Regions from separate parts of the Homo sapiens genome. Here regions 2, 3 and 4 are each linked to region 1. Evidence: fine-mapped QTL for protein levels in blood plasma. A gene starts in region 1. Each other region holds a variant in brackets. All regions are shown on one strand. Distances are between the middles of the regions.

Region 1 (8,109 bases):
AGCAACCTGATTCAGCAGCAAAAATTAACAAAAATGTCTTTGTTCCTTGCATTCCTTCCACTAAAAGCCTGAGAGACAGGAGAACATCACAGTTTCAAAACATATCTATTTTATTGTTACTGGGGTGGTTAAAGAAAATAATCTCAAATATGCTTTAGATTTAACACCAACATTTCCAAAATACTCTAGATTTTTGCATCTGAAAGGAAAACGCATCTTCCATTGCAAAAGGATTGCCTTTGCTTCCTCTAATTCAGCCTAAATACTGGCTGTCATCTGATCCCCAGATTTGTCCTCTCTTGGAACTGAGCCATATAGTATGAGAAAAATAAAAAAGGATCAATAAGTGATAAAGCTTTAGGAGATGTAAAATCAGCATGTAAGGATAAATATGGCACTAATTAACCTTTACTGATGTTTTCTGCAGCCCATAATAAAAGTGTAATGAGTTCAAGACTTTACAGCATCCCAGGTGCCTTAAACAACAAAGTCTACAGGAGTTAGGTTCTCTTAGCAACAGTGAAATTCCTGACTGGACCTACCTGACCTACCCTGGTAAGCCCAGCTTTCCTTTTGTTCCTCATCGTTGAATATTTCACCTGGAGACAAAGGGAAAGCCTACTCACCAGCAGCTATTTCTATTTCCAGACTCTTAGGCAACATACAGCAATTTCCTCTAGCATTTTTTTTTTCCACTTTGTAGCATCGGGGTTTCATCATGTTGCCCAGGCTGGTCTTGAATTCCTGGGCTGAAGCAATCCGCCCACCTCAGCCTCCCAAAGTGCTGGGATTATAGGCATGAGCCACCACGCCCGGCCTCCTCTAGTATTCTTTACAAGTATTCTCCAATTCATTCCTTTCCTACTGCTCATTAGGTTTTCAAGCCTGATTCTGATTTTGATTCTAAGTCATATTCAAATTGTACATAAAGTATCAAGCAGTTTTACATCAGCATTACTTTCCCTAATGTTGGGTTGCACTGCTAGCTCCAGCAGCCTCCATCACTACAGACTAAACCTAAACTCTTCTGGGTGGCTCTCAGGTCCTACCTCACACAGGAGCCCAGACTAGCCATGCCCTCCTCATGTATTCGAACCTGTAGCTTCTACCACAGCTAGCTGGGGCCATTGTCAATGGCACCTCCACTCTCCTACCCACCACCATACTACACACAGACCACCTCCTTCTCTACTTTTCCCAAGATACCTTCTCCCTCCCATTCCTCATGCTTTAGGGGCCCCCTCCAGTTCCCCTTACTGCCTCATAATTAATGCCATTGTTATGCTCAGCCTACCAAATAAATAACCTATACATCATCAATTCATTTTCAGTAACTCATAGTAGGAGACTGAATAATGCCTCCCCTACCCTAAAGATATCCGCATCCTAGTCCCTGAAACCTATGAATCTGTGGCAAAAGGGACTTTGCAGATGTGATTAAGTTGAGGATCTTTTTTTTTTTTTGAGACAGGATCTCACTCTGTCTCCAAGGCTGGGGTGCAGTGGCATGATCATAGCTCATTACAGCCTCTGACTCCTGGCTTCAAGTGATCCTCCCACCTCAGCCTTCCAAGTAGCTGGGGCCACAGGTGCATGCCACCATGCCCGGCTAATTTTTTGGTATTTTTTTGTAGAGATGGGGTTTCGCCATGTTGCCCAGGCTGGTCTGGAACTCCTGGCTTCAAATGATCCTCCAGCCTTGGCCTCCCAAAGTTCTGGGATTACAGGAATTAGCCACCATGCCCAGCCTGTAAATTGAGGCTCTTGAGAAGGGAAGATTCTGGATTATCAGGGTGGGCCCATTGTAACCACAAAGGCTCTTAAAACAGGAAGGCAGGAGGGTCAGGGTCAGAAAAGGGGATATGACCACAAAGCAGAGATCAGAGAGACTGGAAGATGCTATGCTGCTGGCTTTGAAGATGGAGGATGGCCGTGGGCAAGTGGCCTCTAGAAGCTGGAAAAAGCAAGGAAATGGATTCTCTCGTACACCCTCCAGAAGGAACACTGCCCTGCCAACCCACTTTATATCTCTGACTTCCAGAAGAAATGTATATGTGTTTTAAGCCACTGTGTTTGTGGTAATTTGTTACAACAGCCATAGGAATCTAATACCGTTATTTACTACAAACAGCTTTAACTTCCTCTATTATTTCATAAATGCATCTCCTCTCATAAATTAAGTGTAGGCTCATCAAGCACAAGGATTAGATCTTTTTATTTTCCATCTCCACTGAGGAGTTCGACACAGTGTCAAGTTCAGATCAAGTACTCAATAATGGAATCTCTCAGTGTTTTTTGTTTTTTGTTTTTTTGAGACGGAGTCTTGCTCTGTCGCCCAGGCTGGAGTGCAGTGGCACGATCTCGGCTCACTGCAAGCTCCGCCTCCCGGGTTCACGCCATTCTCCTGCCTCAGCCTCCTGAGTAGCTGGGACTACAGGCGCCCGCCACCATGCCCGGCTAACTTTTTTTTTTTTTTTTGTATTTTTAGTAGAGACGGGGTTTCACCGTGTTAGCCAGGATGGTCTCGATCTCCTGACCCTGTGAACCACACGCCTCAGCCTCCCAAAGTGCTAGGATTACAGGCATGAGCCACTGTACCCGGCCTGGAATCTCACAGTGTTTTAAGTGTATTAAAAACTAACAGGGGAGACTAAGGGATGGGTCAGTGGGCCACAGAGTAGCAGAGGGGTGTCTGAGATACTCATGGATGTCCCAAGTTGCAGGTGAGTCTCTTCAGCAGACGGGAAGGGAGGGGTGGTGCCCTACTCAGAGGCCGAGTACACACTATGCCCAGTCCTGCCTGACAGAGTCCTGCCTCTAACCTGAAGCAGTTTATTTCCCATTTCTGGCTTCCAACCTGCGCTGCTGTGTCACCAAGTAGTGTGAGAATGGAATCTACAATGAGGAAATCAATGAGCAGTCCCATAAGTACGTATGTATTTTTCCAGTCTTTTAAACTTGTTTTTTTCCCCACCAGTAAAAGAAAGCTGCTATGGTTTGAATGCATTCCCCAAAGTTGATGTGTTGCAAGCTTAATCCTCAGTGCAACAGTGTTGAGAGGTGGAATCTTTAAGAAGCAATTAAGTTATAAGGGCTCTGCCCCCATGAATGGATTAATGCCATTATCATTGGAATGGGTTAGTTATCATGGGAATGGGTTCCTGGTAAAAGGATGAGTTCAGTCCCCTTCCCTCTCTCTCACCCATGTGATGCCTTCTACCACATGATGACACAGCAAGAAGGCCCTCACCAGATGCCAGCACCTTGATCTGGGACTTCCCAGCCACCCTCCAGAACTGTGAGGAAATAAATTTCTCTTCTTTATAAATTAGCCAGTCTCAGGTACTCTGTTATAGCAGTGCAAAACAGACAAAGGCCTATATCATTTTCATCAGGAAAAGAACTTTCTTACACCTCAGAAAAAGAACCTTCTTATACCTCCAGATGTAAACCTAACACTTAAGTGTGATACTACCTGTGGTCCTAATGTTAACATACAATGGTTGTCCTCAGAGAAGCCCTTCTCCTGGGAGGGGCATGTGGCACGGTGGTTGAGGGTGCAGGCTGGGCCTGAACTTGAATCCCAGCTCTACTGCTGACCAGCAGTGTGACCCTGAGCAGGTCCTTGGATGTCTCTACAGACTGGGGGGACCAACAGCATCCACTTCATAAAGTTGCAGCAAGGATTTAAGGAGGCCGTGGGAGTTGGGTGCCTAGGTCAGCACACTGCCCATAGTAAAGATACGCACTCAAGAAGCACAGGCTATGGTCAGGAGACCTCTGGGAACTCAACTGCTGAAGGTGAGCACAGGCTGACCCAAAAGACAGTGAGCCTCACAGCCCAGGCAAAGGTTGGAAGTGAACTTTGTCTGAAGGTCCAGGGAAGGTAGACACCAGGTCAGGTGACAAGCAAGCTATACTTTCTGGGAAAGCAGCATTTGAGTATTCAAGGTCTCTTTTAAACTTCAGGATCAAAGATAACAAGAACCCATGGATAGCATTTCACACCCATTTTGTTTTGCAGGGACCAGGTACTAACACTGTACCCTCTTCCTGAAGGTGCTTTTCAAGACATTGCATGCTGTCACCTTCAAGCAGAATAACCCACAGAAGCCTGTGGTGCCCAGAGCTCTTAAAATATGTTACTCTTGGCTTTCCTAGGAAAAATTAAGCCTGTCCAAAGATCAAACAATTGAACAGTGAGGTGATAAATAACCTTTGCCTCTCCATTTTCCCATTACCACCCTTGTGCCTGTCGTTTCCCCCCTTCTCTGGTTTCAAAACGCACTCTTGTGAACACACCCTGTAATTATCACTTGTCTCCATATATTTTTAGTTAATGTTTCACAAGAGTATCTATTAGTGGATTTTTCATGCTTCCAAGTGCAAGTTTACCCTCATGCTTTTAAGTCTATGGGTAAAGAGAAAAATAAGAGACAAGAGATGTGACTGGTAGAAGTGAGCAAGTAAAAACTTAAGAAGCCGCACAGGCTGTTTTTCAAGTTCAAGTTTTGCTAGCATTCGCTACAAGTATAAATTCTGACAATAGGCAGCATTGGGCCCATTCTTTTTTTTTTTTTTTTTTTTTTTTTTTTTGAGACAAAGTTTCGCTCTTATTGCCCAGGCTGGAGTGTAATGGCAGGATCTCAGCTCAACGCAACTTCCACCTCCCGGGTTCAAGCAATTCTCCTGCCTCAGTTTCCCGAGTAGCTGGAATTACAAACATGCACCACCACGCCTGGCTAATTTTTGTATTTTTAGTAGAGATGAGGTTTCTCCATGTTGGTCAGGCTGGTCTCGAACTCCTGACCTCAGGTGATCCGCCCACCTCGGCCTCCCAAAGTGCTGGGATTATAGGCGTGAACCACCGTGCCCGGCCGCATTGGGCTGATTCTAATCAGAAGTTGTCCCTTGAAAGAAGAGATTTGTAGCCTAGAAGACTATTAACCAATACTGCTCCAAAAGTTTTTCTTAGAGATAATTTTTATATATACATACACACGTCATATGTAATATATGGGTGTATTATATAGAACATGTTATCTTTCATCCTATATCGTTACTAAGATGACATATAGTTATTAAAATCATTTCTTCAGATGCAAAAAATAGGCCAGGTGCAGTGGCTCACGCCTGTAATCCCAGCAGTTTGGGAGACTGAGGCGGGCAGATCATTTGAGCCCAGGAGTTGGAGACCATCCTGGGCAACATGGCAAAACCCATGTTGTATTTTTCTACAAGAAATACACAAAATATATATATATGTATCCGGGCATGGTGGCACATGCCTGTAGTCCCAGCTACTCGGGAGGCTGAGGTAGGAGGATCACCTGAGCCCATGGAGGTTGAGGCTGCAGTGAGCTGTGTTCACGCCACTGCACTCCAACCTGAGTGACACAGTGAAGTGGCTTCAAAAAAATAAACAAAAAAACCAGATGCAAAACATAATAAACACCCCATTTGATTTTAGCTCACTAGTGGTAATTTGAGAGAAAAGATGATTTAAGATGCTATTCAACAATTGGAGAGATTTGACGTGGGCTATGATAATGGCATTGTGGTTACATAGGAGAATGTCTTTGTCCTTAGGAGACAGATGCTGAGGTGCTCAGGGGGGAAGCATCTGGATGTTTGTAATTGATTCTCAAATGACTCAGGGGTGGAGGAAAGTATCTGTCCAGAGAAAGAGAAAGCAAATGTGGAGATGTTCGCAATTAGTGAATCTAGTCGAAAGGCAGACTGGTGTTCATTGCACTATTCTTGCCACTTTTCTGTAGATCTGAAATATTTTTTAAAAGATGTTTAAAAAAAGATAGTTCTTGTTATGATTAAGCACAAACGCCTACTTCCTCCCAGGAAAACAGAACATATGTGTAAAAACACTGGCAATTTTCTAAAATCTTGATTAAAATGCATTGCCAAAATCAGAATATTTTTGTGTAAAATCTTATAACTAAAAATAAAATGCCTGTCTTTACTCCAACCAGTGAGTTAATACATATTCTATATTGGTGCATAGCAAAGTCAAAGAATCCATAATAAAAACAAGAAGAATATATACAAGACAGCAAAGACACATGGAATGATAAATGCTCAAGACTGGCGGGAAGCTTTTAAGGAATTCTATTAGATTTCCCATTTGTTCTCCAATGTAAATAAGGCCCTAGAATTTTAGAGCTGAGAAACATCAGGGAGAAATACAGTCCCAATAGTCCAGTCCTCAGTTTGTAGGTGATATAAGGCAGAGTCAGGGAAAATTCTATAAGTGTGGAAGTGTACAAGTGTTTCAAAGCTGTAAAGTGCTCTTAAAATCCACCTGGAACCCCTTCCTGTGAGTTACAATCAGCATTAGATCAATGTCCCTTGGAAATGTCCTACTTATTTCATGGAACTCTTTCCAGTAGAAATCAATCTCCTTGGCAATTTTAAATCATGGCAGTTACAAAAAGTTTGAAGTATTTCCAACTGAACAAGAGTAAGTCGAGTGTTCTCACAAGTTTTTCGAATGATCACGAAATATATTTGGTAAGGAAAAGGATAATGAGAAATAAAAAGCAGACACAGGACCAACAAATAATGAAAGAGCTGAAAAAATGACCATGTTACTCAATATTGATTTGCCAAATAAAACCACAAATTACTGAGTATCTTCTTTCCACTTCTTAAACCTGCTTCTGAAGCAATACTTCCATTCATTCATTCATGTATTCAAATATTTAAGCTGCTAATATGTAAAGACATCAGAAGGACTTCAATGGCCATACCGTAATTTTTTAAACTATGTAATATTGTCCTTCTATGACAGCATTTTTTCTTTTTTACAGACAGGATCTCACTCTGTCACCCAGGCTGGAGTGCAGTGGCACAATCATGGCTCACTGTTGCCTCAACCTCCCAGGCTTAAGGAATCCTCCCACCTCAGCCTCTACAGTAGCTGGGACTACAGGCATGTACCATCACACCTGGCTGATTTTTTAAATTTTTCAGTAGAAATGTCTTGCTGTGTTGACCAGGCTGGTATCAAACTCCTCACCTCAAGCAATCCTCCTGCCTCGGCCTCCCAAAGTGCTGGGATTACAGGCATGAGCTACCGCACAGGGCAGCATTTATTTTTTCTGGATATGAAGAAAGTTATTTTTTAAAGCCTAAATATGCAACTAAATTGAAAAGAATCCTCTATATCTAAGCTTTATGAAATGTGAACTGTGAGCAAATATAATTCTACATTGGAGGGAAAATATAATCTCAGGGGGAAAAAAATCCAAGCTTACGACTCTGAACCATGAAGCAACTGTCGAGATGGACCTTTACTGGATCTTGCCCTTAATTATGGGGTTCATGCAGTCTTAAGCCTGAGTTTCAAAAACCATTAATAATTACCCTTAAATGGCCAACAAAAGGAAATTTTCATAATCAGGGTGGCGTGCCCGTAAAGACTATAAAAGTGTCATGATTCTGCTCAGCTCTTCAAACTCCTCTTTGATTCTTCTAGCTGTTTCACTATTGGGCAACCAGGTTAGTGTGATTTTGGTACTACCTAGAGCTCCTTCTGTTTGCATTAATACTCTGCTTCCTTTTAGAATGGTGTGAAAGATAATGGTCTGGAGAGAAGGTGAGTTTATGCCATCTGGAGATATTCCCTGTAACTTAGAAGCTAGAAGCTGTGGTCAAGTATTCTTCAAGACCACAGCCTGCAGAGTGCAGATCAGGTACATAAAAAGTGTAGAATGTCATTAATTACTAATAAAAATGTTTGGCTCCAGGGACCATCTCCTAACAGATGTACTCTAAGAACAGACATTTAACATACTATCTAAGATGTCTTTTTTTTTTTTTTTTTTTTTTTGCAGCGGAGGCTCGCTCTGTCACCCAGGCTGGAGTGCAGTGGCATCGCACTCACTGCAACCTCCGCCTCCCGGGTTCAAGCGATTCTCCTGCCTCGGTCTTCCAAGTAGATGGGACTATAGGCACGCACCACCACGCCTGGCTAATTTTTGTATAGAGACAGGGTCTCACCATGTTGGCCAGGCTTCCATGGTCTCGAACTCCTGACTTCAAGTGATCCACCCTCCTTGGCCTCCCAAAGTGCTGGGATTACAGGCATGAGCT
Region 2 (8,109 bases), 170 kb before region 1:
AAAGTGCTGGGATTACAGGTGTGAGCCACCATGCCCAGCCCAAGGGCAGGTTCTGTTTGATGAAGGGGGTAATCATTTATGTGATATAATATAAAGGGAGAGGTGCTAGGAAAATCCCCAATATAAACATAATACCTCTTCTGTGCTGTTGTCTACAGTTCAATTATCAGAGTATTTTTTTCCTTTGGTTGAGTCGTGCCCACTTCTCATGTCCCACTTGAAAAGCCATAAACTTACTAACATGTCAGTACAAATGTGCTTATCACACAGTGCACTTTCCAGAGAGGTGACAAGCCCAAAAGACCCCCGTGCCCAGGAAGGGGTGGGGAGTTATGGGAGAAGAAATTAGTTAGGGAGCAGAAAGCAGGATCGGGGGCTGGTTAAAAGACAGATCAAAGGAAAACTGAAAGACCCCTCAAAGGTAGTTTCTACCAACCTCATACTTCACAGCCTCACAACCTGGCCCAGTCTCAGGACAAATGGAGATATATATATATATGCACTTATACAATTATATACGTAAATTATGCGTGTGGGTGTACTTTTTTCCCAGCACACTGATGTTAAGGGAGAAATGAAAAATACCATGTAAGTAGATAACACCTAAAAAGTAAGCATCACGAGTGAGCTATATAGACAGGATTTCCAGGAAGCTAATCATATCTCACAAAGAAATTGAGATGCCCTCTTTATCTTTATCTGAAAAGAAAGTCTTTCCAGCTATAATAAACTTATAATTTAGAAGAGCTCAAAAAGTCTTCCAGCTTTGTTAGTGAAAAGCAACCTGTCTTTAAGTGCCCCAGGTCATGTCTTCTTTTCTCATCTCAAATTATTCTGGGACAATCAGAAAGAAAGTGATCTACATCTGTTTACCTTGCTGAAAAAAGAAAAATGTCAGAGCTGCCTGCCAGGAGTTTTTTACAGTGTAGTTCCTCTTAGACACAGGAAATGGGGAGAAAGTCGCTGTCATTTAACAGATATTAATTTTGACCAGCCATGAATGAAACTTCTGCTGCTCCTGAAAAATATGTGTAGCTTGCCATGCCCTCAGACATGTGATTGGAATCAATTCTCCACCTGTCCATGACTTTTGCCATGTGGTTTTGCCGCGGAAAAATCACTAAAGCATCTCACTAAAGCAGCAGTCTATCTTTGCCCCTCCAGTCTGAGCCCCACCTGTAAAGGGCCTGGGAGTAATAGTTGAGGCTTTGCAAGCAAGACTGTCTCTTTTGCAACTACTTGTAGCACAAAAGTGGCTACAGAAAATATGTGTATAAATGGACATGAATGTATTCCAATGAAACTTTATTTACAAGAGCAGATGGCCAGCCAGATTTGGCCCACAGCCATAGTTTGCCTACTTCTAGCCTAGACACACTATTACCATAGCAATAATAGCTAATGATCATATTGACAAGAACTTACTTATGTCATTGTGATGTAGTGTTCCCTTCACCCAGAAGGCTCTGCCCACCTGTGCTTGTTGTCAATATCCTTTTTCTTTATGTCTTACACTCCTCTTCCAAGAAGCCTGAGACTGCTTACTTAGAAGAGTGTTCTAATCACCTATTTACTCATCCTTCTCCTTCATCACACTAAAAGTGTCTAAAAGCAAGGTTATGTCTTAATCACTTTTATATACCCAGAGCCTTGCGGAGAACCTAGACCATAGAAGATGCTCAGTAAGTGAATGTGAAGTGAATAATTCAAGGAAATACAATCACTTCAAGAGAATGAGAGGACAAGCCACAAACTAGGAGAAAATGTTTGCAAAAGACAGATCTGATAAAGAACTATAATCCAAAATACACAAAGAACTCTTAAAACCCCGCAATATGGAAAATGAACAATCCAGTTTAAAAAATGGGCAAAAGATCTGAACAGACATCTCACCAAAGAAGATATGAAGATGGCAAATAAACATATGAAAACATGCTCCATATCATCTGTCATCAAGAAAATGCAAATTAAAACAACAATGAAATAGCACTACATACCTATTAGAATGGTGAAAATCCAAAACACTGATAACACCAAATGCTGGCAAGAATGTGGAGCAACAAGAGCTCTCATTCATTACTAGTGGGACTACAATATGGTACAGCCACCTTGGAAGACAGTTCAGCAGTTTCTTGCAAAACTAAACATACTCTTACCATACAATCCAGCAATCATGCTCTTTGGTATTTACCCAAACAAGTAGAAAATTTATGTCTTCACAAAAACCTACATACAGATGTTTATAGCAGCCTTCTTCATAATTGCCAAAATTTGGAAGCAACCAAGATGTCCTTCAGTACCTGGATAAATGGTGGTACATCCAGACAATGAAATATCTTTCAATGCTAAAAAGAAATGAGCTATCAAGCTATGAAAAGACAGGAAAGAACCTTAAATACATATTACTAAGTGAAAGAAGCCAATCTGAAAAGTCTACATACTGTATGGTTCTAACTATATGACATTTTGGAAAAGGTGAAACTATGGAGATGGTAAAAAGGTCAGTTTTCTCCAGGGGTTGGGAAGAGGGAGGGATGAATAGGCAAAGCACAGAGGATGTATAGGAATGTGAAAGTATTCTGTATGATACTGTAATGGTGGATCCATATCATTATACATTTGTCCAAACCCATAGAATGTGCACCACTAAGAGTGAACCCTGATGCAAACTGCACTTTGGATGATAACGACATGTCAACGTAGGTTCATCAATTGTAACAAATGAACCACTGTGGTGTGGGATGTTGGTAATGGAGGAGGCCAGATGTGGTACAGGGGAAGGGGACATATGAAATTCTATGCTTTCTGCTTAATTTTGCTGTAAAATGAAAATTGCTCTAAAAATAGTCTATTTTTAAAAATGCACATGCAATTACATATCATTGTTGCAAGTCTTTACTCAGCCTCTTCTATGGCCCTTATTCTCAGGAGACACTGAAAGCTAATTACTTGATTAGACAATGGCTCCTTAGATCTGACAAGGTCGAAGCACAACCAAAAGCACAAGTGACAAAAGAAAAAATAGATAAATTGGACTTCACCAAAATTAAAAATGCTTGTGCTGCAAATGTTACTATCAAGAAAATCAAAACACAGAACAGGCAAGTGTTTTTTTTTTTCCCACATAAAAACGGCATCTGCTTTATTTGGTATACTTTCATTTCAGAACAAAATAAACAAAAAAGCACAATACACAACATCCAATATCCTGTTATAAAAGTAGAAAGAGAATGGGGCTTAAGGCTCTTGTTTCCTGCCTTAGACACACGGACAGGACAGAAAAAACACTAGACATCAGCAGAGGGAGCCAGGTGGGATAAGGCCACTCAAGGCCGCGGGACAGAGCCACTCAAGGAACCATGGGGACACTATACAAGGGCACAAGGTTTCCAAATATAAACTCCTAGTCTACTTCTTCCATGTAAGACCCATTCTCCTCACCCTCAAGCAGGGGTATCTCATCAGAAACAACAGCACTGGGTTCCTCTGTTGTCACTTCATCTTCATCAATACCTATACCTAGCTTGATCATGTGGTAGATGCAGGTGGAGGGTCTGGGGATCCTCAAGGGAGAAGCCAGAAGAAAACAGAGCAGTTTCAAACAGCAGCACCACCAGGTCCTTGACAGCTTTGCTGTTCTTGTCTGTCTCAGCCTTCTGCTGCAGCATCTCCACAATGGGGTGGTCGGGTTGATCTCCACGCGCTTTTTGGCCACCATGTAGCCCATTAGAGAGTTGTCTCCAAGTGTCTGAGCTTTCTTGATTCACTCCATATTGGCTGTCCAGCCATAGGGTGCTGATCACAATGCAGCAGGGTGAAGACACAAGCCTATTGGAGGCTGTCACCTTCTCAACCTTCTTATCTAAGATTTCTTTCATAAGCTTGCAGAGGTTCTCAAACTTTGCCTTGCTCTCCTCCATTTTCTTCTTCTCCTCTCATCCTCAGGTAGCTCGACCTGAGGTAATAGAGACCAGGCTTTTCTTATCAAACTCCTTGACCAGCTGCACGCAGTACTCATCAGTGAGCTTGGTCTAATATAACACCTCGAAGCCCCGCTTTGAGAGGTGTCTACCTGCTCTTTGCTCTCACCAGTGATGTAATAGATGGACTTCTGTGCCTCCTTCATGTGAGAGAGATACTCTGACAGAGATGTCATCTCATCTTCAGACTGGGAGGTGTGATAGCACAGCAGCTCAGACAGACGTCCCTGGTTGGTGGAGTCCTCATGGATCCCAAGGTTTAGATTTTTAGAGAATGCCTCATAGAATTTCTTGTAATTCTCCTTCACTTCTGCCAGCTCAGAGAAGGGCTCAAGCCACTTCTTAACAACGTTTTCATGAATGACTTTCAAGATTTCGCTCTGCTGGAGCACTTCTCAGGAGATGTTCAGGGGCAGATCCTCAGGGTCCAATAGTTCAAATAATTAAACAGGAAAAGAGATTGACAGCAAAACTAACTATTAAAAGGAATGCATTCAATTCGCAATTGCAGATATGGAACCAACCTAAGTGCCCATCAACCAACAAGTGGATAAAGAAAATGTGGTATATATACACCATGGAATACTACTCAGCCATAAAAAGGAATAAAATAATGTCTTTTGCAGCAACTTGGATGGAGTGGAGGCCATTAT[C/T]CTAAGTGGAATAACTCAGAAATGGAAAACCAAATATCGTATGTTCTCACTTATAAGTGGGTGCTAAGCTATGAGGATGCAAAGGCATAAGAATGATATAATGGACTTTGGGGACTGTGGAGGGGGAAGTTAGGAGGGGGTGAGAGATAAAAGACTACATATTGGGTACCGTGTACACTGCTTGGGTGATGGGGAGAGCAAAAGTCTCAGAAATCACCACTAAAGAATGTATCCATGTAACCAAAACCACCTGTACCCCCAAAACTATTGAAATAAAAATAAAAATTAAAAGAGTGCATTAAGTAGATATTTTTAGGAAAAAACATATAATCTCTTATCCCCACCAATGTTATACAGTCTTAGTAGCAAGTAGAATATATATAATTGTAATTGTTGCAAAATTGCTTTGTGTACTCTAAAAGTAAACAAAATAAGCTTTGAGAATTGTATTTAGTTTTTTGTTATCTAAAAAACACCTCAAAAACATTGCAGCTATGAAAACGGTGGAGAATTTCCAGGCCAATTTCTGCATGAAAGCCTGACCCTGTAGGGCTAAGGGGAAAAGCAAAGCCTCAAAACTTCTGGAGTCCTTTGTACCCTCATCAATAATGCAAACACTTGCCCTCAATTCCATAGCCTCCCTGGGCCGGAAGAACTGACGCTGAAGTCCAAAGCACACAGAAAAGGGGGTGTCCTGGGGTAAGGGCGGGGCCGGATCTAGACCTGCCTGCCCCACTTCTCACCGAACCCCCATCGCCACCACCAAGCCTCTTGGAACTGCTCTGATCTGAGCCAGAGCATCAGGAACGTCAAATGTCAAATCAAGCTTGGAGCAGCTAACTTTGAGGGATAGTTATCTACTTTAAATTTTGGATGTTTTAAAAATATTTGAAACAAAAGTCATCTCTGTAATCCCTTTTCAGCCATTTTTTAATCTTCTTTTGGACTAAGGTGTTTAAATCAATAATTTAAAGAAACTTGTATATATATATATATATATATATATATAAAATATAAAAAATATTAGAAATGACAATCAAAAAGTTCAACTTTAATTAACCACTTCATTGGTTGTGAGTTTCACTTCCTAGCAGTCATCCACTAATTAATATTTGTTAATCTCCATAGCAGAGTGAACAGACCCAAAAGTCACAAAAAAAGTCCTTTGACTTAAAAAGGAGAAGAATTTATTTCCTTTAAAAGAAAGAGCAAAGACAAATACCGTATGATCTTACTTATGTGTGGAATCTAATAAAGTTGAACTCATGGAAGCAGAGAATAGAATGGTGGTTACCAGGGGCTGTGGGCGGGGCAGATGTTGGTCAAAGAGTACAAAGTTTGTTAAACAGAAGGAATAAGTTAAGAGGTCTATTGTGCAACATGGAGACTGTAGTTAATAACAATATATTATATACTTGAAAATTGCTAAGATTTTGTGTTCTTACCACAAATAAATATTTAAGGTAATGCATATGTTAATTAGCTCAATTTAGCCATTCCACACAATGTAGACATAATTCCAAACCTCATGCCATACACCATAAACATATACACAATTATTTGTTAATTTAAATAAATAAATAAGGAGTGGCAATTTGATTAATCAAAAATGGGGGAGGGGGGATTTATACTAGATCCAGTCAACCAATAGCCAGGCTTTGTTTCCAGCTAATTAAATAGTAGAAAAGAATATGGTTTCCACCCATTCGACAAGAGTATGATAAGCTAAGGAGTAATGACAAAATGCAATTAATTTCACTATCTTTTCAATCATTTCAAGTGTTTGGTTCTATTCTATATGATTCTTTATTCAAGTTTGGTTCTATTCTATATGATTTTTTTTTCTTTTTAATTTTACTCCCAACATTTTTAACCTTATTATTAGGAACGTCATAGTTCCTAAAACATTGTTTTCTGGCTGAAGTATGAATTTTGCAAGTATAGTTTGTCGATATTAACTAGAAAAGAAAACGTGATCCTACATAATCACATGGGACAGTAACAAAAGAATATGGAAAGATGCTTTTAGGAAAAATTGCCAAAGACTTGGCAATGGGCAAAAGATTACTGAGTGTCCTTTCAGTGAAGTGCTTGCATATTATCCAAATGACCATCCCAGGATTGTCTGGCTCTATCCAGGTATGTACCTTTGACTGATTGTCTTCCTATTATTTAGGCTATTTTGTAACTCTGTAAGGGTAGAAGTTAAGCTATAGAAAACTGTTAGTAAAGCAAATAATTATTATCCATTGAAATGCAAATACACTGTATCTAGAAATATAATGAATTTCTGCCCTGTAGAAAGAATAATCTCGAACATTACATTTCATTGCCATACAAGACAGCAACATCCAACAAAATATATGTACAATGCAAGCCACAGATGTAATTTTACATTTTCTAGTAGCACACTGAAAAGGATAGAAAGAGGTGAAATTCATTTTAATAATACATTTTATGTAATTCAATTATGTTCAAAATATTATCATTTCAACAAGTAGTCAACATAAAAAATACTGAGATAGTTTACATTCTTTTTTTGTATACTATGCCTTTGAAATGCCTAATGTACTTTATGTTTACAGCACATCTCAATTTATGCTAGCCACAATTCACATGCTCAACAGTCATGTGGTTAGTGGCTACCATTTTGAACACTGCAGCTATAGTTTTTGTCTGCACAGGTCTGGATAATTCAACTATTACATCTCCCCATGCAACTATTTGTTAAAACACTTTTGGTGTCAACCCTAGATATTTCTTCAGCTCCTACTATGTTCCTGGCTGTTTGCTACTTATTAGGATGGGTATAAAAACTATAATAAATGTCCCCTGACCTCAAAAAGTAAGATGAGGTAAGACATATAAATCATTAAACAAAAAATTAGAAGCAAGACTACATGTAAATGAATTCTCAAATTTAGTGGACAATAGAGAAGTGAAAAATCAATATGATAGGCACATTCAAGGAGGAGACTTTGGAGGGAAGAGAGGAGCCAGGGATATTCCAGACTTAATAAACAGAATGAGGAAGGAAAGGGATGAGTTAATGGTTAGAGAAAACAAGGAGTTACTGGCCTGCTTTTATTTATTTATTTATTTATTTAGCCTGATTATGTCAAACATTCCATTTCTTTGTTTCAGATCATAGTTTTCATAATATATGGTTGCTCTTAGGTGGATAAATTAAAATAGCTTTAGATTGAATATAGATCTTATCCATTATATGTTGTATGATCTCAACTATGTTCTAAAAAATGCATTTTAAAAAACAGGAAGAAAACACCCAAAATGGTGCAGACAACTGGATTGATTATGGTGGGGTAGAGGATGATCCTGCTTCTTTGAAGTTTGCTATACCTTTTATTATCTTTTTTCAATAATCACATAATATTTTATAATTAGAAAAAATATATACTATTTATATTATGTAAAGAAGTTTTATTCATTTGATGGTTCCAGAAATTCTGAAATGA
Region 3 (8,109 bases), 18 kb after region 1:
TTTAACCCATATTATAGCTGCATTTTTTTTTTTTTTTGAGACAGAGTTTCGCTCTTGTTGCCCAGGCTGGAGTGCAATGGCGCGATCTTGGCTCACTGCAACCTCCACCTCCCAGGTTCAAGTGATTCTCCTGCCTCAGCCTCCCAGTAGCTGGGATTACAGGCACCCACTACCACGCTCAGCTAATTTTTTGTATTTTTAGTAGAGACGGGGTTTCACTACGTTGGCCAGGCTGGTCTCAAACTCCTGACCTCAGGCGATCCACCGGCCTCAGCCTCCCAAAGTGCTGGGATTACAGGTGTGAGCCACCACACCCGGCCTATAGCTGTATTCCTAATGACTACTTTTATGGGAAAAAGGATTTTTAGCCCTAACTAACCTCCAAGTGATTTCTATATGATCTTTGTAATAGTCAGGAGATGCTTACTTCAACACTCTAAATGCAAGAAAATCCTCAAAGTAATCAAAATTGCCTAAAAGATAATTCTAAGTGGGCCATCTGGTTTGTTTTCAACACCTCTTAATTTGCACTCCATATGAAGTTGTTGAAAAATAATACAGATGAGGAAAATATTTTAAACAGGGCTTCAACTAAAGGCAGGAAAATGTTATGCATTAATCAATTATACTTCATGTATAACAAAAATCAACTTTCACCCAAATCAGCTTTTAATTATGTGACTGTTTCACAAATCTACTATGGTAGATGTAAAATTCACTTAACCCTGAAAATTCCTGGATCAAAAAGGGATAAATGACGTCATACCTATGATAAATAATGAAAACTGAAATAATATCAAATACCAAAATCTCAAATATCCATTTGCATCTCGTTAAAATGCTTTGAATTTCTCCCTGTTCCTTTCCCATACCACCATCCAAGTGTGCATGTGTGTGCTGATGTCTTTTGAAGGTGGAACATGAATTCTGTCTTCAGGGTGTAATATCTTATGTAAATTTAGAATTTTTAGTTACCTTTTTCAACAAACAGAAAAGAAATGCTTAGAGTTAAGCACATTCACATGCCTACACATTAGATTGAGATTGTTCATTCATATATATATATATATATATGCCTCAAAAGCTGAAAATATTCAAAATATAAAGTCCAAAGTGCTGTGAACTACACTACAGATGTACTGGAGAGATCTGAAGCCAAATTCAAGGTCAAGGATGTCAGCAGCAGCCATGTGATTGATATAGGGTTAGAATGTAAGTCAGCAACAGCTACGCTCTTGGTTATGTACCATCTAGAAGGCAGCTGAGACTACTTTGAAGCAGGGCAAAAAACCAGAGTTGCTATAGAACCCTAAGTATTCTGCAAAGTCCCAGAGCCTTCAATTTCACCTTGTGGATTAAGCAGAGAAATGACACAATAAAATAAATTTTACTCATTCTCTCCTGGGCACTCTGAGACGCAGAAAGAGTCTACCTTAACCCTTAGGGAAAAATCTGTTTCTCTTTTTATGTGTATAACAGACACTTTCTCTTGGAACTGTTCTGGATGCCAGTGTCTCTATTGATTTCATCAACAGCCATAGCACTAATCATGCATGCCAAAGGAGGGTCATGATGACCTATGAAGAGATCTTAGGAGTAAATATTCCCTATAGAAGGCTCCTGGTTTCCAAACTGTTTACTTTCCTAGCTAGAACAGCCAGAATGACCAGTCCCCACAAAGTAACTGTTATTTGCTCAAGCTTAAGTAACTCTGCAGGCTTCATGGTGCTTGCTGCCTTATGATTCTATCTCCTTAGTCTTTTTTTTTTTTTTTTTAATAAGACTTCTCACATCGATACAAGTGCTAGCTCTTAAGGCTATTTTTCTCCAACAAACATTGCAGGCCATAAAGACGTTCAATAGCAATTAGCTTTTATTGTTCTCATCTCACTTATGTGTATAGGAGCCATCAAAATGTAAAATGCACACATCCTCTGACTTAGCAACTCCCCTTCTAGGAATCTATCCCTGCAGATGTGTTCGCGCGTGGGTGCAAGGATATATGTACATGGATACTAATTTGCAGCATAAATTAAAGCAGCAAAATAATGGACACAAACTAAATATGAGACTGGTTAAATAAATAAGGATGCAGCCATATAGCATACAGCAGAGCAAGCACACCGAAGACATCCCTGCACATTGATGTGGAATGATCAGTATATAAAGCAAGGTGGGAACAGTGTCTGGAGCATGCTACAAAGTTGTTTTGTTTGGTTTTGTTTTGAGACAGGGTCTCGCTCTGTCACCCAGGCTGGAATGCAGCGGCGTGATCACAGCTCACTGCAGCTCAACCCCTGGGGCTCAAGTGATCCTCCCCCTCAGCCTCCCGAGTAGCTAGGACTATAGGTGCATGCCACCATGCCCAGGTAATTTTATTTATTTATTGTAGAGGCAAGGTGTAACTATGTTGCCCAGGCTGCTCTCAAACTCCAAGACTCAAGCAGTCCTCCCGCCTCAGCCTCCAAAAGTGCAGGGATTACAGGCATGAGACACTGCACCTAGCCAAGATCTTTTTTTTAAACGCAATACATATTCATATGTGTGTGGCTAAGTGGGTATACACACACAAAAACACACACACAAATCTCTGAAATAACTAAAGAAATGCATCAGCTGAGCTCCTGTAGTTTCAGCTACTTGGGAAGTTGAGGTGGGAAAATCACTTGAGCTCAGGAGTTCGAGGCTGTAGTGCGCTATGATCACACCTGTGAATATCCAGCCTGGGCAACATAGTGAGACAGCCCATCTCTTTAAAAAGGAAAAAAAGAAAGAAAGAAATGGATCAAAGTAGTTGCCACTGGGGAAGGGAACCGAAGTGAGGTGGGGGCAAAGGAGAGACAGTTCTGTACCTTTTTCTGCAGGGCTTAACTTTTTTACTCTGTGTAAAAAAAAATTTTTTTTCATTTTTTTTGAGGCAGAGTCTTGCTTTGTCACCCAGGCTGGAGTACAGTGGTGCAATCTCGGCTCACTGGAAGCTCTGCCTCCTGGGTTCACGCCATTCTCCTGCCTCAGCCTCCCGAGTAGCTGGGACTACAGGCGCGTGCCACCACGCCCAGCTAATTTCTTTATGTTTTTAGTAGAGACAAAGTTTCACCATGTTAGCCAGGATGGTCTTGATCTCCTGACCTTGTGATC[T/C]GCCCGCCTTGGCCTCCCAAAGTGCTGGGATTATAGGCATGAGCCACTGCGCCCGGCCATGTGTAAAAATTTTTTAACGCACGTACACACACCCCCAGTAAAGAATAATCATCAAAGAATTAACCTTGCCAACACTATCTAACAGTGGCACCTACTGGTAAAATCACTTCCTATCCCAAAGTATATCTTAGAAAAGAAAACCCATAGTTTTCCTGGCACAGCCATTTCAGCTATTAGTCAGGAAATATGTTTATATTAAAGGCTCATAAGGAACCCTTCATTGGTATTAGGCCTTCTGAGCATAAGACTTAAAAGTACCATCTGGCTGGTAAGTTATGGTTCATTATGGTTTGAGTTACAAGCTATAAAAAAAAAGAGTGAAGAATGCTTCTATGTGCTTCCGTGGGGTGATCTCCAGCATACAGTGTTAAGCGAAAAATGCAAGGCAGGAAAAAACTGTGTAGAGTATGCTACCATTTCCCTAAGAAGGGAAGTGGATGACAAAGACATACAGCTTTACTTATATGTAAAAAATGGGAAGATGAACCAAGAAAAAAAAGAATGAATGCTTGCCATAAGGGAAGGGATTAAACAGGCTACAGGGGACAGAAATAGAACTAGATTTCTCTAAATCAGTGGTTCTCAACCAGGGCGATTCTGCCCCTGCCCCCAAGAGATATTTGACAATATCTGGAGGTACTTTTAGTGTCACAGTTGGGCAGGGGTTAGGGAGTGATACTGGCACCTAGTGGGCAGGAGCTCCCACATACAACAAAGAATGATGTGTTCCCAAATGCCGATAGCACAGATTATATATAAGGAACTTATATCTAGAATATATAAAGAACTGTTACAACTCAATAATAAAAATACAAATACCCTAATTTTAAAATAGACAAAGGATGTGAATGGACCTTTCTCCAGAGAAGACATACAAGTGGCCAATAAACACATGAAAAGATGCTCAACATCCTTAGCCATCAGGCAACTGCAAATCAAAGCCACGATGAGACACCACTTCACATCCACTAGGATGGCTATCATCAAAAAGACAGAAATAACAAATGTTCACAAGGATATGGACAAATTAGGACCCTCATACATTGCTGGCAGGAAATTAAAATGTTGCAGCCACTTTGGAAAACAGTCCTACAGCTCCTCAAAGGGTTAAACACAGAATTACCATATGACTCAGAAATTCCACTCCTGGTGAAATGAAAACATATGTCCACACAAAAACTTGCACATGAATGTTCACAGCAGCGTTAGTCACAATGCCAAAAAGTAGAAACAATGCAGATGTTCATCAATGGATAAATAAAATGTTTCATGTCCATATAATGAAATATTAATCAGCAATAAAAAGAAACAAAGTACTGATACGTGTTACAACATAGACAGACTTTGAAAACATTATCCTAAGTAAAAGCAACCAGTCACAAAAGGCTACATATTGGATGATTCCATTTATATTAAATGATTCAAACAGGCAAATCTATGAAGACAGAAGGTAGACTAATGGTTGCCTGGGGCTGGTGGAGATAGGAGGCTTGGGGGTGTCAGCTAAGGCGTGTGGGGTTTCTTTTTGGAGTAATGAAAATGGCCCAAAATTGCTTGTAATGAGAGTGGCACAGATCCGTGAATATGCTAAAAACCATTGGATTATACAGTTTTTTGTTTGTTTGTTTTTTGAGACAAAGTCTCACTCTGTTGCCCAGGCTGGAGTGCAATGGCACGATCTCAGCTCACTGCAACCAACGCCTCCTGGGTTCAAGCAATTTTCCTGTGTCAGCCTCCCTAGCAGCTGGGATTACAAGCATGCACCAGCACGCCCAGCTAATTTTTTGTATTTTTAGTAGAGATGGGGTTTCAACTTGTTGGCCAGTCTAGTCTCGAACTCCTGACCTCAAGTGATTGACCTGCCTAGGCCTCCCAAAGTGTTGGGATTACAGGCGTGAGCCACCGCATCTGGCCGGATTATACAGTTTAAATGGCTAAATTTTGTGGTATATGAATTGTATCTCAATAAAGCTGTTTAAAAAACCAATCGCGATTGTGAGGCGCGAGCTCCATTAGAAGTAGGTGCCCAGCAGCAGGGACACGACTGGGTGTGCATGGGTGGCTGGCAAACAGGCTGACTGAAGGCCAACCATCATCTTGCAGAACTCGCTCTGTTAGTGGTGAGCACAGTAGCATGAGGCAGAAGGCAGAGGCAGGTAAAGAAAAGAGGTCAGGAAAGGTTTCCTCAGATGAATAGGAAGTTGTTGGTAACTGAGTTGTTGTTAATTAAATTTTTCAATGCTTTTATTGAGATTCCAGGGGGAGAGGGATTTTAGGCAGGTGGACATCTCAGGTATAGGGAACCTCAGGCTGTATCTGAAAAACTAGTTTAGATTGTCCAAACGTAAAACTCAAAGCATGTAGCCTGGGCAACATAGTGAGACCTTGTCTCTACAAAAAAAATCAAAAAATGAGGTGGGAAGATTGTTTGACCCCGGGAGGTCTAGGCTTCCGTGAGCCGTGATCATGCCACTGCATTCCAGCCTGTGTGACAGAGTGAGAACTTGCCTCAAAAAAACACAAAAAAGAAAAAAACTCAAAGCCTGGGAGGAATCAGGATGCCATGGGATGAATCAGCAAAGCAGCAGGTGACAGAGCACAGTGGCTTTGGGACCCAGCCCAGAATCCTGGACTGAATATTTTAAGGGAAAAGAAACTGATGGAAGATGAGGACTGGCAGCAGAATCACTGTCGCTTTTGTTTTAGAAAGACAGATGACCACCAGTGTGGAAAATAGGCAGACTGGTGATGAGTCTGGAGACAGGACAGCTCATTTATTTATAGTAGATGTTATAAATTGTTGTCACAGCCGATTTAATCCTTTCCTAAACATTAAGCTTGAAAGCTGCGACAAAGAGAAATCAGTCCAGGATTGTGACTGTCTTTAAGGCATAGCTGAGAAGATGGACTATCAAGAACAAAGGAATTTAATATAAGAATAATGTAATTTAAAATGTTCTGGTGCTGTAAAGAAAAAATAATAATAGACCCCCCCCCGCCTTTTTTTTTTTTTGAGAAGGAGTCTCACTCTGTCACTGAGGCTGGAGTGCGGTGGCATGATCTTGGCTCACTGCAACCTCCACCTCCCGGGTTCCAGCAATTCTCCTGCCTCAGCCTCCCGAGTAGCTGATATTACACGCATCTGCCACCACAGCCAGCTAATTTTTGTATTTTTAGTAGAGACAGGGGTTTCACCATGTTGACCAGGCTACTCTTGAACTCCTAACCTCAAGTGATCCGCCCGCCTTGACCTCCCAAAGTGCTGGGATTACAGGGGTGAGCCATGGCGCCCAGCCAATAGCCCCTTATGAATTTAGGCAAGAGCCAGGACCCAAGTGACAATGACTGGACCCAGAAAGATAAACAAGCCACTTACCAGAGGAACTGGGGCATTTGGCCTAAACTCTGTGGAATCAGCATCTGAAGATTAAGAAAAGAGTTCAGTAATTCACCAATAGTGCTGAAAAATATTTGAAGAGAGAAAATTTTTTAAATAAATGGTCATTAGCAAACCTCGAACTTACCTTTCAAGTTAAGGCAGTTTCTTGCAAACTCTATCACTGCTAGTTGCATCCCAAGACAAACTCCTATTTTAAAAAGCACATATGCAAAGCAAATGAACTCACTTTGTATTTGTTCACATTTTCTGTTCATTTGTTGGCTGCCTGTCTCCCCTATCTAGAATGCAGACTCCCAGAGAGCAAGACTCTGCCTGTTTTGCTCCCTGCTGTCCTCTCAGAAGAATCCCTGACAGAGAGCAGGGCAGGGGCTTAGACTATCATGAAGCCGCCTAAGTCCCAAAGTTGACAAAGAAGGAACATGAGGTCAGAAAAGTGCAGGGTCAACTGGGCGCAATGGCTCAAGCCTGCAATCTCAGCACTTTGGAAAGCCAAAGTGAGCAGATTACTTGAGGTCAGGAGTTCGAGACCAGCCTGGCCAACATGGTGAAACCAGCCTCTACTAAAAATACAAAAATTAGCCAGGTGTGGTGGCATGCACCTATAGTCCCAGCTACTTGGGAGGCTGAGGCAGGAGAATTACTTGAGCCCGGGAGGCAGAGGTTGCAGTGAGCTGAGATCACACCACTGTGCTCCAGGCTGGGTGAGAAAGAAGGAAGGAAAGAAAGAGAAGAAAGAGAGAAAGAGAGGAAGGAGGAGCTGGGTGCGGTGGCTCACACTTGTAATCCCAGCGCTTTGGGAGGCTGAGTTGGGCGGATCACGAGGTCAGGAGATCGAGACCATCCTGGCTAACATGGTGAAACCCCATCTCTACTAAAAAAAAAAAAATACAAAAAAAAATTAGCCAGGCATGGTGGTGGGTGCCTGTAGTCCCAGCTACTCGGGAGGCTGAGGCAGGGGAGTGGCGTGAACCTGGGAGGCAGAGCTTACAGTGAGCAGAGATCGCGCCACTGCACTCCAGCCTGGGCGACAGAGCGAGACTCTGTCTCAAAAAAAAAGAAAATAAAAAGAGAGAGAGGAAGGAGGGAAGGAAGGAAGAAGGGAAGAAGGAAGGATGGAAGGAAGGAAGGAAGGAAGAAGGAAGAAAGAAGGAAGGAAGGAGAAGGAAAAGGAAGGGGAGGGAAGGGAGGGAAGGGAGAAAGAGAGAAAGAAAGAAAGAAGGAAGGAAGGAAGGAAAGGAAGGAAGGAAGGAAGGAAGGAAGGAAGGAAGGAAGGAAGGAAAGAAGGAAAGAAAGAGGCAGAGTCCATGAGACAAATCTGCCACCTTCTAGATTTGTCCCTGAGTTGAGGCATCTTAGTGGGCTGCAGTGCCTGATTCCTTCAGAGAACATCTAACACCCCAACTCAGAGGGAGTTTCCTGGGCTAAGATTTCCCACTCCTTCTCATGGTGACTTCACAGCCATAAACACAGGCTTGGCCAGAGGTTGAGTGCCTACAGGACGTCAGGCTGCT
Region 4 (8,109 bases), 230 kb before region 1:
ATAACTGCAAGGGAGGCTGGGAAATGTAGTTCAGTTGTGTGTCCAGGAAACAAGTATGGTTGACAGCCCAATAGTCTCTACCACAAACCAGCCAGACATAGTCACTGTAGTCATTGGAATTAAATACTTAATTACCAGAGAAAACAATAATTTCATCTTAAGAAGTAGTAACATAGCTTGCTAATATTATGTTGAGAGACTGAAGAAGTTTGTCTCTGAAAAGAAAGTGTGATTCAAATAGATTATCTTTTCTCTTACTACTTTTGAGGATTTATTTGGCTGGCTCATACATCTTGACTGCACATTTGAAGACAATTGGCAAACTTGTGGACCCACATGTCAGCCTTGCTGAACTTCTAGAGTGAATTTTACACATAAATCACATGGAGTCAAAAGCTGGTGTTCTTTGGCATTGCATGTCTACAACTTCACAGCAAAATGGAGTTCTCTAACATAATTTTGAAACTGCTTGCTGCTGCAATGATAATTTCCCAAAATCTATTTATACCTTGCAAACAGCAATCATAGCTATTCCCTCACCATTTTTACAGAGTTTCCATTCTCATTTTACAGGTGAGGCAGCAAATGGAGCTCAAAGGTCCTCATTGTTTTGCAGTCCTGAAGTGGCTTCCTTCCCCTATATCTGTAGTTTCATCACCCTTCTTGTTATTGTATTTGTGAACATGTATTAATCTGCCTTCTAGGTGGTAGAAAAAAATTAACAGCATCTGTTTTCATAAATCTCTGTTCTAATAAATGATAATAATATTGATGAACATATTTCCAAAATTATCTTCATAAAAGCTTTAAATGATGGCAAAGGAAACTCATATCCAAATTCTCCTGTAAAATTAATTTTTAGCCAAGTTTATTTTAATCTATCTGTTAGACCACTTGCTCCTTCATTGCTTTTTTTTATTTCTCCATTCATTTGTTCAGTCAATCGTTCTCAAATATAATTAATTTCATCCATTTAGTTAACTTTAAAATAGCTATATTTGGCCAGCGTGGTGGCTCATGCCTGTAATTCCAGCACTTTGGGAGGCTGAGGCGGGTAGACCATTTGAGGTTGAAACCAGCCTGACCAACATGGTGAAACATACGAAAATTAGCTGGGCATGGTGGCACATGCCTATAATCCCAGCTACTTGGGAGGCTGAGACATAAGAATCGCTTGAGGGAGGCAGAGGTTGCAGTGAGCCAAGATCACACCACTGCACTCCCAGCCTGAGTGACAGAGTGAGACTCTGTCTCACAAAAAAAAAAAAAAAAAAAAAAAAAAGCTATATTTGCTGGACTTATTTGCAGAGGGCACATTTTGAGGAACTTGATTAGGGTTCAAGCTCCATAGTCACAAAATTAAAATCGGAGAGCTCTTGCGACTCTTTGAGTAAGTTGTTTTCATAAGTTATACTTGTATGTGCTACAGAGACATTCCAGTTCATCCATTTATTTATGTATTTGTTCTTCATGTACTTACTGAGCACATACCATGTGCTGGGCACTGTCTAGGTACTGAGGATCCCGTGATGGACAAGATACACAAAAAGTCTCTTTCCTCATGGAATTTCCATTCCAGTGGAGAAGACAGTAAACAGACAAATATATACAATGAGATAGACTATATCACCTGCAAAAACCAATTTTGCAACTTTTCCTGTCTCAACAGCAACCCCTAAGTAAACCCCCCCACTCTACCACTGCCTTTGTAAATATTTGGCACTTCAGGAAAATTCCTGTTGTTAGTAGACAAAAGTGCTGCAGAATAGTAAAAGGTAAGAGACATAAAGCTCATTAACGATTAGAATTGACAAGTGTTGCATTTTGCCATTATTTTGTTTCATTATAGTATTTTAACATTGCATGGCTTTTCTTCCCCCTGCTCAAAACAAGACTCCAGGGTCCCAGGTTGTTGCCATCCAGTTATTTTCTTCCCACTACATGAACACAAATTTCTAGAATTCTAAAGGCCTTGAGAGATAATCTTCACTGACCACATTATTTTATAAATGAGGAGAGTTAGGTTCAGAGAGATGAAGCAATTGCCTGAGATTAGAGAAGTAGTTGGAGGAAGAGCTGGGACTGGATTCCAGGTCTAATTTTACATCCCCAGGAGAGCACAGCAGTGAATAACAATCCATTTATAATACTAAGCAGAAAATACTAGCAGACTTGGCTACAGAAAGTGGGACTTTGAAGTTGTTAACTAGAAGTTTGAAAAGTCTATTTGCAAGTCTTTCTTTGCTTTCTTTCCTTCCATGCTTCTTTTGAGGACAGAGTTAGATTTTCTTTTCTTTTTCTTTTTTGAGAAAGTGTCTTGCTCTGTTGCCCAGGCTGGAGTGCAGTGGTGCAATCTTGGCTCACTGCAACCTCCGCCTCCTGGGTTCAAGTGATTCTCGTGCCTCAGCCTCCTGAGTAGTTGGGATTACAGGTGCGCACCACCACACCTCCCTAATTTTTGTATTTTTAGTAGAGATGGGGTTTCACCATGTTGACCAGGCTGGTCTCCAACTCCTGGCCTCAAATGATCTGCCCGCCTCAGCCTCCCAAAGTACTGGGATTACAGGCGTGAGCCACTGCACCTGGCCTGGAGTTAGATTTTCCTTACAAAGTTGAATAAATTTCTGACATCAGAGCTGAAAACTGGAAAAACAAGAGACCTGAAAAACAGAAATGCAAATCAGTTTAATCCCCCAAAACACAGGTCAGATGGTATCTTTCTAAACACTGCTTTCATAATGATTAAAACATCCAACAATCTACAAGTTAGGCAAAAGGAAATAAACAAAAAGAAATCCAGACTTTCCAGCAACATATGGAAAAACTTTACTAAAGATCAAAAAGTGCAAATTAAAATTTTAGGATGTCCGTTTTTTAAAACTTATATACATACCAGGAGTTTTCCTAAGGATAATCCTCAGGGCTTATGAGGGTTGATAACATAGAGGCACTTTTTCAGAACAATATTCCAGGAGCCTTGAAACATTCATGTCTTTTGACTCAGAAATGTACTTCTAGGCCGGGCGCGGTGGTTCATGCCTGTAATCCCAGCACTTTGAGAGACTGAGGTGGGTGGATCACGAGGTCAGGAGTTCAAGACCAGCCTGGCCAAGATGGTGAAACCCCATCTCTACTAAAAATACAAAAAAAAATTAGCCAGGCATGGTGGCGGGTGCCCGTAATCCCAGATACTCGGGAGGTTGAGACAGAGAATTGCTTGAACCCAGGAGGCGGAGGTTGCAGTGAGCCGAGATCGTGCCACTGCACTCCAGCCTGGGCGACAGAACGAGACTCCGTCTCAAAAAAAACAAAAAGAAAGAAAGAAAGAAAATGTACTTCTAGGAATTGGTGCTTAAGAGATAATTAGAAATTCTACCAAAGATGTATAGGCAAGGATACTCATCACTGTGTTGTTCATGATGTAAAAAAAAAGAAAAGAAACAAACTAAATATTTGAGGGGAAAAAGCCATAAGTAAATAAAGTATGGTATGTCTATCACATGGATTTTTTAAATGACTACTCAATGATATGGAGAAAGTGCTCACAATATAAAGTTAAATCAAAGATTCTCAACCAGAGATTATTTTCCCCATCAAGGAGCATTTGGCAAAAATGTCTGGGCCAGGC[G/A]TGGTGGCTCATGCCTGTAATCCCAGCACTTTGGTAGGCCAAGACGGGTGGATCACCTGAGGTCAGGAGCTCGAGACCAGCGTGGCCAACAGGGTGAAACTCCATCTCTAGTAAAAATACAAAAAATTAGCCGGGCGTGGTGGCAGGCACCTGTAATCTCAGCTACTTGGGAGGCTGAGGCAGGAGAATCCCTTGAACCCAGAAGGTGGAGGTTGCAGTGAGCTGAGATCATGCCATTGCACTCCAGCCTGGGCAACAAGAGCGAAACTCCACCTCAAAAAAATAAATAAATAAATAAAAATGTCTGGAGATATTTTTGGTTGTCAGAGCTGGAGGGAGAGGAGTGCTACCAGCAGCTAGTGGGTAAAGGTCAGGGATACTGCTAAAAATTCTATAGTGCACAGGAACAGCCCCCACGGCAAAGAATGATCCAGCTGCAAATGTCAGTATCACCATGGTTGAGAAACTTCTGAGTCAGATGACTAAAACAGGGCACAATGTTATGAATGCTGATTGATCTCAAATTTTAAGAGGGGGAAAAACAAGGATATCACTTGGTGATTGTGTTAGTCCATTCTTGCATTGCTGTAAAGAAATACCTGAGACTGGGTAATTTATAAAGAAAAGAGGTTTAATTGGCTCATGGTTCTGCAGACTTTACAGGAAGCATAGCAGCTTCTGCTTCTGGGGAGGCCTCAGGAAGCTTCCAATAATGGCAGAAGACAAAGTGGGAGCAGGCGTCTTACATGACAGGAGCTGGAGCAAGAGAGAGAGCAAGGGGGGAGGTGCTACACACTTTTAAACAACCAGATCTTGGAAGAACTCACTATCACGAGAACAGCACCAAGGGGGATGGTGCTAAGCCATTCATGAGAAACCCACCCCTTTGATCCAATCACCTCATACTAGGCCCCACCTCCAACACTGGGGATTACAATTCAACATAAGATTTGGGCAGGGACACAGATCCAAATCATATCAGTGATAAAATTACAGATGATGTTTATTTTCTTCTTTATACTTTACTTTCCCAAATATTCTACCATGAATGTGTGTTATTTATATAGTCAATTTAAAAATTTTTGAAATAATCCTTCAAAAGCTCTCTGCAGCCTCTTGCATCAAATCAAACTCCTCATCTCCACCCTCTGGATCACACATCATTTGGCCCTGCCTAAACTAAAACCTTTATTCTTCCCTACTTTTCATCAAGAACTCTCTAATTAGAACAATATCTCCTGCATCCCTGAACACACACCCTGCTTGTTTGCTCATTTTTTTATTATCTGTGACACAAGAATAATTGTTCACATCACAGGATTGTTGAGAGGATCAAATGAGATAAGATACGCAGACCAAGTTTATAACTGCCAAATATACAAATGTTAGTTGTCACTCTCTGTTGCCATGCCCACCTTCTCTCCAGTGGAACTAACCTACCCATGATTCAACTCCTAACCCGGAATCAGTTTTTCTGTGAAGCTTGTCCTGACTTCCCCAGGCTGTTTTGGGAAACAATGAGCCCTACAATTTTGCCATCCTAATAAAAGAAAGGTTGAAGTTGAAGCACAGTTTCCTTGGAACACTAATTCCATGAGCCATTATATCAGTGAAAGTCATGTCAGGAAACAGTACACTTAAATTGGGCAATTTGAGGAAAGATGAATAATGGGCTGTTCACAAAGATGTGGCAGAGTATAGTGTTGTGGAAATTCAGGAACCCCAAACGGAGGGACCGGCTGAAGCCATGGCAGAAGAACATAAATTGTGAAGATTTCATGGACATTTATTAGTTCCCCAAATTAATACTTTTATAACTTCTTATGCCTGTCTTTACTACAATCTCTGAACATAAATTGTGAAGATTTCATGGACACTTATCACTTCCCCAATCAATACCCTTGTAATTTCCTATGCCTGTCTTTACTTTAATCTCCTAATCCCATCATCTTCGTAAGCTGAGGAGGATGTATGTCACCTCAAGACCCTGTGATGATTGTGTTAACTGCACAAATTGTTTGTAGAGCATGTGTGTTTGAATAATATGAAATCTGGGCACCTTGAAAAAAGAACAGGATAACAGCAATGTTCAGGAAACAAGAGAGATAACCTTAAACTCTGACTGCCGGTGAGCTAGGCGGAACAGAGCCATATTTCTCTTCTTTCAAAGGCAAATGGGAGAAATATCACTGAATTCTTTTTCTCAGCAAGGAACATCCCTGAGAAAGAGAATGCGTTCCTGAGGGTAGGCCTCTAAAATGGCCGCTTCGGGGGGGCAGCCGTCTTTTATGGTTGAAGCTATAGGGATGAAATAAGCCCCAGTCTCCCGTAACGCTCCCAGGCTTATTAGGACGAGGAAATTCCCGCCTAATAAATTTTGGTCAGACCGGTTGTCTGCTCTCAAATCCTGTCTCCTGATAAGATGTTATCAATGACAATGCATGCCCGAAACTTCATTAGCAATTTTAATTTCGCTCCAGTCCCGTGGTCCTGTGATCTCGCCCTGCCTCCATTTGCCTTGTGATATTCTATTACCTTGTGAAGCACGTGATCTCTGTGACCCACACCCTATTCATACACTCCCTCCCCTTTTGAAAATCACTAATAAAAACTTGCTGGTTTTACGGCTTGGGGGGCATCACAGAACCTGCCGACACGTGACGTCTCCCCTGGACACCCAGCTTTAAAATTTCTCTCTTTTGTACTCTGTCCCTTTGTTTCTCAGACCAGCCGACACTTAGGGAATATAGAAAAGAACCTACGTGAAATATTGGGGGTGAATTTCGCCCAATACCTGGCTGAATTTCCCCTGACATCACAATTTATGTTCTTCTGCCATGGCTTCAGCCGGTCCCTCCGTTTGGGATTCCTGACTTCCCGCAACAGCGTAGGGAAACCACAAGAAATAGGTCAGTATCCCAGGTCTAGTAACAGCTGAAAGTTCTTACCATCCCCAGACCTAAAGGGAAAAGAGGATGGGGTGGTTTACTGAACCCAGAAGCAAGAAGGAAAGAGTCACAGAAAGAAGGCTCCAGAGAGGAACTGTGACTTCTGTCCACAGATGCAGTGAATTGTAGGTGACCCAGAGGATAAATATCCTAAGTCCTTCCTCCTTCTAATCATAAGATCAGCACCCACTGGCCAAACTAACCGGAAGTTAAAGAGTGTGTCAGTCACAGTTCTCCAGAGAAACAGAACCAATATTTAGAAAGAGAAAGACAGGGGAAGGTGGGGAGAAAGAAAGGTTTTAAGGAATTGGCTCATTTGTTTGGGGGATGAGTGGGGGGATAAGGGGACCTGGCAAGTCCAAAATGCGTAGGACAGGCTGGAAACTCAGGCAGAAGCTAATGTTGCCTTCTTGAGCTAGAATTTCTACAGGAAACCTCGGTTTTTGCTCTTAAGGCCTTCAAACAATTAGGATACGGCCCACCCAAATTATGGAGGGTAATTTGCTTTACTTAAAGTGTACTGATTAGACACATCTACAAAACACCTTCACAGTAGTATCTGGATTAGTGTTTGATTGAATAACTGGGCAATAGAGCCTAGGCAAGTTGACACATAAAAGTAACCACGATGGAGATCAAAGGGGATCTGTTGATGCAGACCATCCATGTCTGCCTCCCTCACAAGGCACATAGCAGAATAGAGGAGGGTTGTGGGTGGAGAAGGAGAAGACAAGAGCTATCCAGTACAGTTTTAACAGCTATCTTGTGAGCAAAAGTGTTCCATGGTGAAATAAATTTGGGAAACACTGAGTTAAACATAATTAAACCAAACCAATTGTTTCCCAGGTAAAATGAAGAGGGGAGACATTCTGAACAGGAGAGATGAGATGCCCAAAGGCTCTTTGTCGAGTTAACTGGTGGGTGTAAATACACACAACGGACAGGAAGTGTAGACGGGCTTATGTAGCTGCAGTAGGATGTCCAATTGAGGCAGGCAAGGGGGGCATCAAGTAGAGGAGGTTACAGGCTAAGGAGCTTAGAGTATGTGATTAGGAGGTTTAATTTTATTCAAGAGGAAATTGAGAGTTATTCTGGGCTTCTTAGAATGGGAGTGGCCTAATCCAATAATAGTTGTAGAAAGGATTCATGCTGCTATGTGTAGAATGCACTGGAATAAAGACAAGAAACAGAGAAACCAGAAAGAAGGCAGATGATGCACTGTGGATCTAAGATGGCCATTGGTTATTATGGGATTGGGGTGAAAATGAAAAGGAAGCAGGAGAGCCAAGAAATATTGCAGAGGAAGGAAATGCTTAGTGGCAGGCTGCAAGTAGAAAGTGAAAGAGAGAGATGATTCTAAAGTCGGAAAATAATTACAATGTTATTTCATAATTAAGGATCTAGGATACTTATGTAGCCCATCCAACTCCAGTCAGCAACCAGCTCTTTCATCCCAAACAAAAATTAGAGAATGCTTCATGTGAGAGGTTGAAATGACATAAATCCCATCCATTCCATTGTGCCTCTGGGGAG

Alleles and levels. Positions count from the first base shown, and alleles are read on the strand shown. Strength reflects both the effect of a copy and how common the allele is.
As copies of T replace C in region 2, the plasma level of the protein whose gene starts at base 7,470 in region 1 goes down (moderate association).
As copies of T replace C in region 3, the plasma level of the protein whose gene starts at base 7,470 in region 1 goes up (weak association).
In carriers of allele G in region 4, the plasma level of the protein whose gene starts at base 7,470 in region 1 tends to be lower than with A alone (weak association).

What was found. PIP is the posterior inclusion probability: the model's chance that the variant is causal. The UK Biobank Pharma Proteomics Project read protein levels with antibody pairs (Olink). The fine-mapping took linkage between variants from a reference panel, not from the people measured, so its PIPs are less certain.
Region 2: its variant is fine-mapped to the plasma level of the S100G protein (UK Biobank, PIP above 0.99).
Region 3: its variant is fine-mapped to the plasma level of the S100G protein (UK Biobank, PIP 0.95).
Region 4: its variant is fine-mapped to the plasma level of the S100G protein (UK Biobank, PIP above 0.99).

Annotation. Positions count from the first base shown.
Region 1 is chrX:16,642,689-16,650,797 of GRCh38, forward strand. S100G (S100 calcium binding protein G) reads left to right here and starts at 7,470. Exons shown (of 3, transcript NM_004057.3): 1 at 7,470-7,515. All of the region lies in intron 13 of CTPS2 (CTP synthase 2), which reads right to left.
Region 2 is chrX:16,470,939-16,479,047 of GRCh38, forward strand. It overlaps the pseudogene LOC100132857. Among named protein-coding and RNA genes, the nearest start is that of MIR548AM, 150 kb to the right of the region's middle. The variant C/T (reference allele first, on the strand shown) is at 4,634.
Region 3 is chrX:16,660,940-16,669,048 of GRCh38, forward strand. It overlaps CTPS2 (CTP synthase 2), which reads right to left. Exons shown (of 19, transcript NM_175859.3): 12 at 6,723-6,785; 13 at 6,575-6,618. Among named protein-coding and RNA genes, the nearest start is that of S100G, 15 kb to the left of the region's middle. The variant T/C (reference allele first, on the strand shown) is at 3,139.
Region 4 is chrX:16,416,761-16,424,869 of GRCh38, forward strand. No RefSeq gene overlaps it. Among named protein-coding and RNA genes, the nearest start is that of MIR548AM, 210 kb to the right of the region's middle. The variant G/A (reference allele first, on the strand shown) is at 3,629.